2 linked regions of the Homo sapiens genome follow. The protein of the gene in region 1 purifies or fractionates together with the protein of each later gene. This does not show direct contact. Each region holds a gene or a part of one and is shown in the gene's direction. Other genes may lie near its edges. The genes, in order: SYCP1 and PSMA8.

Region 1 (3,831 bases):
CATTTAGAAGTCTATTGTTCAATTTCCATGTATTTGGAGAATTTCCTGTTATTTTTTGTTATTCTTTCCTAGTTTAACTTTGTTATGGTCAGAGAATGTACTTTTGTAAAAAATTTCTTAAGGTTTGTTTTATGTATCAGATATGATATATCTTAGTGAATGTTCCATGTGCACTGAAAATAATATGTATTCTGCTATTGTTAGGTAGAGTGTTCTGTAATTGTCAATTAGGCTCAGTTGGCTGATGGTGTTGTACAAATATATGTTTTTAATTGAATTTTTGGGTCTAATTCTATTATTTACTGAGAGAAGAGTTAAAACTAGTAGGATTTTGGAATTGTTTATTTATCTATTTAATTCTATCAGTGATTGCTTCGTGTGTTTTGAACTTCTGCTATAAACTTCACATTTATATCTAACTACCATATCTTCTTGATGAATTGACCCTTTGATTATAATTAAATGCCCTCAATTTCTGATAATACTTTTTTGTTTTAAAGTCTATTTTAACATATTATTATAGCCACTCCATGTTTCTTATGCTTGTTGTTTGCATGATATATCTTACAACCTACATTTGACTTTATATTTGTACATATGTGCTTATATGTAGCCTGCATATAATTGGGTCTTCTTTCTTTATGCACTCCGACAATCACTGCTAATTGGAGAATTTAGACCATTGATATCTTTAAAAATTGTTGTTTAAGTGTTGATGTGGCTTAGATTAGATTCACCATTTAAAAGTTGTTTTCCGTTTGCTCCTTTGTTTTGTTCCTCTTTTAAACTCTCTGCCTTCTTTTGGGTTATTTGAATATTTTTTGGCATTCCGTTTTAATGTATCTACTGGTATTTTATCTATACTTCTCTGCATTTATTTTTGTGGCTGTTCTAAGGATTACAGCATGTATCCATTACCTTGTCTATATTGAGTTAATATTGTACCACTTCATGTTAAATGTTGAAACTTTTTTTTTTTTTTTTTTAGATGGAGTCTTGCTCTGTTGCCCAGGCTGGAGTGCAGTGGCATGATCTCCGCTCACTGCAAGCTCCGCCTCCTGGGTTCATGCCGTTCTCCTGCCTCAGCCTCCCGAGTAGCTGGGACTACAGGCGCCCGCCATGACGCCTGGCTAATTTTTTGTATTTTTAGTAGAGATGGGGTTTCACCGTGTTAGCCAGGATGGTCTCGATCTCCTGACCTCGTGATCCACCCGCCTCGGCCTCCCTATTTATGTCCTTTTCCCACTTTGTCCTTTATGCTAGAGTTGTCATATATATTACACCTACATGCATTTACATCTTCCAAGACAGTGCTATAATTTTTGCTTTAGTAGTCATATGTTTTTTAAATAACTTGAAGAAAAATGATCTTTTATATTTATTGCAATATTTACCAGTTGTGATATTCTTTATTTTTTCCTGAAGATCCACGTTTACCTCTAATATTGTTCTCCTTCAGCCTAAAGAACTTCCTTTAGTATTTCTTGTAGTGCAGTTTTGCTGCTGACAAATTTTCTTAGTTTTTCTTTTTGAATATATTATTTATTTACTCTTCATTCTGGAAGGATTTTTTTTTTTTTTTGTTATAGGATTGTGGGTTGACAGTTTTGTTTCTTTCAGCACCTTAAAGATGATGTCTTATTGTCTTTGATCCTCCATGTTTTCTAATGAGAGACTCACATGCTTTCAAGATTTTCTCCCTAACTTTGATTTTCAGCAGTATGTAAGTGAAGTTGAATTATTATATTTGAGATTCACTGCACTTCATAAATCTGTAAATTTTTAACTTTCTTCAAATATGGGAAGTTTTGGCCATTTAAATATTTTTCTGCCCTATTTTTGCTGTCTTCTCCTTCTAAGATTACAATTATACATTGATTTGATCTTTTTATATTGTTCCACGGGTTCCTGAGGTGCTATTCATTTTATTTCAATGTTTTTTCTCTGTATTCTTCAGACTATCGATTCTGTTGTTCTGATAGTCAGATTCACTGTCTCTTTCCTTGTAATCTCCATTGTGCTCCCATGAGCATTCAATGAATTTTTTTTTACCAGCTCTAAAATTTCCATTTGTTCTTATTTTCTATTTCTTTCCTTAGATTTTCTATCTTTTTATTCATTTTAAGAGTATTTCCTATACCTGATTGAGCAAAACTGAATTAGCTGCATTAAAGTTCTCATCTGATAAAGTTCTCACATCTTGGTTATACTGGGGTTAGCATATATCTGTTGCCTTTTCCCTTGAGAATGTTGACATTTTACCAGTTCTTTGTATGTTGAATAATTTTGGATTATATTCAGGACATTGTGAAGGTTATATTATGTAGATTCTGTTACATTCTTCTGAATAATGTAAATGTTTTTGTTTTATCTATCAGTTTGCTAGATTCAAAAATAAACTTTATCTCACCTTCTATAAATGGTGCTTCAAATCTTAGTTTAATTCTCTGAGCCTTTGGTGTACTACTTTTGACTCTGTATATGAATGTATGCTTCATGGGTTGTTTTTAAATTTGTGTAGTATTCATACATAGAATCAGGAGATTACTTTCAGTGGTTCTTTGTTCTGTATGATTTCTCCTTTATATTCTGGCAGCTGGTTGTGGGTCCCAGGGCTCCTTTCCCTGGTTCTACCAGGTTCCTCTAGCAAGAGAGATGGTGGGGTTTCTATTGTAGTTTTAGCTGCCTATACCACACTGCTTAGCAGTGACATTTCACCATTGGGACAAAGCTACCAAAACTGACAAACTCACTCCTCTTCCAGCCACTTGTGTTAATTTTTTTTTTACTTGTTAAAATCCTTAGGTTATATATTGTCTCTCTCTCTCTCTCCCCCGCCCTCCCTCCCTCCTTCCTTCTTTCCCTCTCTCTCCCTTGCTGTACACACACACACACACACACACACACACACACACACACACGTTTATATGTATTTATGTATTTTGTCCAGAGTTTATAGAAGTTTTCAGTGGGAGAGTTGGTCTCTGGGCATGAGATTATAGTGACATACTGAAAGCTAAAAGACTGCTTCTATTTTTTGATCCTTCAAATGGAGACATAAAAATCTGACTTCCATAGAGTAGTGTAAAGAATGAAAATATATTTTAAGCATCTAGTGAGGGCTGGTCATACAGAAGTCATCTGAAAGCATGAAACCATGGTTATTGTTATCAATCTGTCTCCACAGTCCTTGATATAATTTAAACACTTTTCATCTTGCATTTGTTTTGGCACAGTAGTCTCATTACTGGCTTTCTTGTTTTTAGGTTCGCCCTACTTAAGCTTTCTTCTGCACTATTGCTAGTGTTATCTTTTAAAATCGCAAATAGGATTATATATTGTTACAGTAACATTTATGATGATTCCACATTGTCTATAGATAAAATTCAAACTCCTTAACTACAATTAGTAGTTTTTATGGTTAATAATATAGGACCTTTTATTGTGAGGCCTTTTATAAAATCATTGTGATGTCATGCTTGGGAAGACAAAGTAAAAAGTGAGTTCATAAATATATGCTGTGTTGGATAGTAGAAGGAATGATGAGAAATTAATCATCTGTAACTAAACAATTAATTATTGTGTTCCAGGGCTGTGTCTACTGAATTGTCTGTCATCATGTTTAGTCTTTGAATTTACTTAATATTGACTAATTTTCTCTTTTTAAAGAATTTTAGCCAGGGGGAAGCTCATAGTTCTTTCCACAGCTCCATTTGGGCAGTTTGATTACTTTCACTATGTGTATGGTTTGGCATTCCTGATTTGTTAATGTTTATAAATAGGGAGAAAAGGAAACACTTTTATATGAAAATAAACAATTTGAGAAGATTG
Region 2 (3,831 bases), on another chromosome or scaffold:
ATGTATAAGGAGCTCAGACAACTCTATAAGAGAAAAAACAATAATCTGATCAAAAAATGGGTGAAGGATTTGAATTTGTATGTCTTCTTTTCTCAAAAGAAGACATACAAATGGCAAACAGGCATATAAAAAGGTGCTTGGGCTGAGCTCTTGCTTGTAATCCCAGCACTTTGGGAGGCCAAGGCGGGAGGATCACTTGAGCCTAGGAGTTTCAGACCAGCCTGGACAACACAGTGAGACCTTGTCTCTACAAATATAATAATTTAAAAATTAGCCTGATGTGGTGGTGTGCTCCTGTGGTCCCAGCTACTTGGGAAGCTGAGGTGGGAGGATCACTTGAACCTGGGAGGTCAAGGCTGCAGTGAGCCATGATTGTGCCACTGTACTCCATCCTGGGCAACAGAGCAAGACCCCATCTCCAAAAAAAAGGTGATCAACATCATTGATCATCAGAGAAATGCAAATCAAAACTACAATAAAATATCATCTCACCCCAGTTAAAATGGCTTATATCTAATAGACAAGCTACAGCAAATGCTGGTGAGGATATGGAGAAAAGGGAACCCTCATACACTGTTGGTGGGAATGTAAATTAGTACAACCACCATGAAGAATAGTTTGGAGATTCCTCAAAAAACATAAAATAAAAGTACATATGGTCCAGCAATCCCACTACTGGGTGTATACCCAAAAGAAAGGAAATCAGTATATTGAAGAAATAGCTGCACTCCCATGTTAATTGCAGAACTGTTCACAATAGCCAAGATTTGGAAGCAACCTTAGGGTCCATCAACAGATGAATGTACGAAGACAATGTGATACTTACACACAATGAAGTACTGTTCTGCCCCCAAAAAAATAATGAGATACTGTCATTTGTAATAACATGGATGGAACTGGAGATCATTATGTTAAATAAGGCAGGCATGGAAAGACAGACATTGCATGTTTTTACTCATTTGTGGAATCTAAAAATCAAAACAATTGAACTCATGGAGATACAGAGTAGAAGGATGGTTACTAGAGGCTGGGAAGGGTAGTGGGGGGCAGGGGCAGGTGGGGATGGTTAATAGGTACAAAAAAATAGAATTTATAAGACCTAGTATTTGATAACACAACAGGGTAACTATAGTCAATAACAATTTAATTGTACATTTTAAGATAACTAAAAGAGTATAATTGGATTTTTTGTAACACAAAGGATAAATGCTTGAGGGGATGGATACCCCATTCTCCATGATGTGGTTATTATGCATCACATGCCTGTATCAAAATATCTCATGTACCCCATAATATATATACCTACTATGTACTCATAAAAATTAAAAATAATTTTTTGAAAAGGCTTCTTGAGGCTGGGCGCAGTGGCTCATGCCTGTAATCCCAGCATTTTGGGAGGCCGAGACAGGCAAATCGATTGAGCCCAGGAGTTTGAGACCAGCCTGGGCAACATGGCGAAACCCCGTCTCTACAAAAAATACAAAAGTTAGCTGGGCATGGTGGTTCACATCTGTAGCCCCAGCTACTCCGGTTGCTGAGGCGGTAGGATGGCTTGAGCCCAGGAGGCAGAGGTTGCAGTGAGCTGTGATCATGCCGCTGTGCTTCAGCTGTAGGCAGCAGAGCAAGACCCGGTCTCAAAAAGGAAAAAGAAAGTGAAAGACACTTTTTCAAAGGAGGAAATTATTTCTTCCCCAAGTAATACCACATCACTTTATTCAGGTTTGTATTGTAATGATCTATTTATATGCCAGTTTTTTTCCACTAAACTGTGGACTCCTTAATAGCAGGTAAGAATTATATTCTTCCACTTTCAGAGCCCATGGAACTCCTAGTAATTGCTTGATGGGTAAATTCATTTCATAAAACGTTCAAATAATATATTTTATGTAGATTATTGACAAATACAGATTTTGTGACACACATCTTTATAGGTGAAATGGAAAGAGTTCTGGAGTTGAAATAAGAATCAGAGACCTAATCTTTAATCCTTCTTTAATCTTTGGCCAAATATAATTTAGCTTTGTGAATCTATGTTTTCTTATATGTAAATTCTAGTGATGGACTAATAGCTAAAATCCTTTACATCTCTAATATCTTTGAAAATTTGCCTTTCCATAAAGTTGATCATTCATTTATCAATTTAATAGATACCTCTTTTCAGTATTAAGATCATTATATTTAGATTTTTGTATATAAATGTATTAACTTCACTGAAGTTAATAATTGCTGTCTTGGCCAGGCACGGTGGCTCAGGCCTGTAATCCCAGCACTTTGGGAGGCTGAGGCGGGCAGATCACTTGAGGTCAGGAGTTCAAGACCAGCCTGGCCAACATGGCAAAACCCTGTCTGTACTGAAAATGCAAATCTCTCTACTAAAAATAACAAAAATCAGTCAGGCGTGGTAGCACACACCTGTAGTCCCAGCTACTGAGGAGACTGAGGTGGGAGAATCGCTTGAACCCGGCAGCAGAGGTTGCAATCACATCACTGCAGTCCAGCCTGGGCGACAGGGTGAGACCCTGTCTGAAAAAAAAAGAAAAAGAAAATGGCAGCCTGGTCTCGAACCCCTGACCTCAACTGATCCACCCACCTCGGCCTCCCAAAGTGCTGGGATTACAGGCCTGAGTCACCAGGTTTGGCCAATAATTGCTGTCTTATAGCCGCAAGCATGTAACCTTGGATCTACTTGTGAACAGTACAACAGAAAATCAAACTACACTGCAAATTCTTAGAAAAATAAAACCTTTTTTGCTTTCTACTTAGACATAAAGTAGCATAAATTATCTTTTCCCATTTCATTTCGCTATTCTATAAACTGATCAAATTATTAAACCCTATCAGAGAATCACACAGTAGGGTGCAGTTGGGAGAGTTAAATAATGAGTCTTTGTTCATGAATAAAATTAAGCCTCGCATTAAAATGTTTTTGGAGTTATATGCACATATAGGATATATAACGCAATATCACCTTTTGTCCTGCTTTCTTTTTTAGCACAGTGATAGTAGAAATGTCAGAGATCTGGTTTTGCCCATAATTGTTATTGCTCTTAGACCTCTTGAAATGCTTCATTGTATATTTGAAGTTACAAAATATAAAGTTGTACATAGAAAGTATAAATTTATTAAATATTGGAATTCTTCATATTGTATTTACATATTATTCGTATAACTGACATTTGATCTTTAAATTTTTTTCTCTTTTCAGATGTTTAGTGCAAAAGAAGTTGAATTATATGTAACTGAAATAGAAAAGGAAAAGGAAGAAGCAGAGAAGAAAAAATCAAAGAAATCTGTCTAATTCTTAGGATGACCACTGGGAGGTCTTAATGTTTTGTTTTATTGTACTGCCTGAGGTTGTTTAGTGAAATTTTAGAGGAAAACAGTTATTTTGCAGCATTACATGCAGTACTTGTGTGATGTTTTGAGAATGCCAGATCTGTGGCTGTCTTCATTCTATTACATAGTCAAACATAGGTTTATGTGAAGATTTTCTTTGAAAGGGGATTTCAGTAATTGTTGAGAGCAGTCATAATTCCACATAAGCCTGAGACTCTATAATTTGTCCAGTGTCTTACTTACCTTCATATATGCAAATATAATTTTAAAAAATTTTTTAATTAAAAAAATTTAATAATTTGGTGATGTTTGAATATTGACTGTCAGTTAAGGACATAGCTATTCCAAATAAACTAAATATAATATTGAGCTGCATTTCTCAAAGAATGACAAAAGCATCCTTATACTGATGAGTTCTTAAAATTTTGTCAGAGCCTTCTTCATTTTACAATATTTTGTTATTTTTATTTTACCTTTTTCATTTTACAATATTTC

What was found.
Region 2: the proteins of SYCP1 (region 1) and PSMA8 purify together in Homo sapiens (affinity purification with western blotting, with the first as the bait; one study listed by BioGRID). This does not show direct contact.

Annotation. Positions count from the first base shown.
Region 1 is NC_000001.11:114,906,615-114,910,445, forward strand, and holds part of SYCP1 (synaptonemal complex protein 1), read left to right. Parts: intron 1-3,782; coding exon 3,783-3,831. UniProt on the Homo sapiens protein: Major component of the transverse filaments of synaptonemal complexes, formed between homologous chromosomes during meiotic prophase. Required for normal assembly of the central element of the synaptonemal complexes.
Region 2 is NC_000018.10:26,189,114-26,192,944, forward strand, and holds part of PSMA8 (proteasome subunit alpha-type 8), read left to right. Parts: intron 1-3,205; coding exon 3,206-3,298; 3' UTR 3,299-3,831. UniProt on the Homo sapiens protein: Component of the spermatoproteasome, a proteasome specifically found in testis that promotes acetylation-dependent degradation of histones, thereby participating actively to the exchange of histones during spermatogenesis.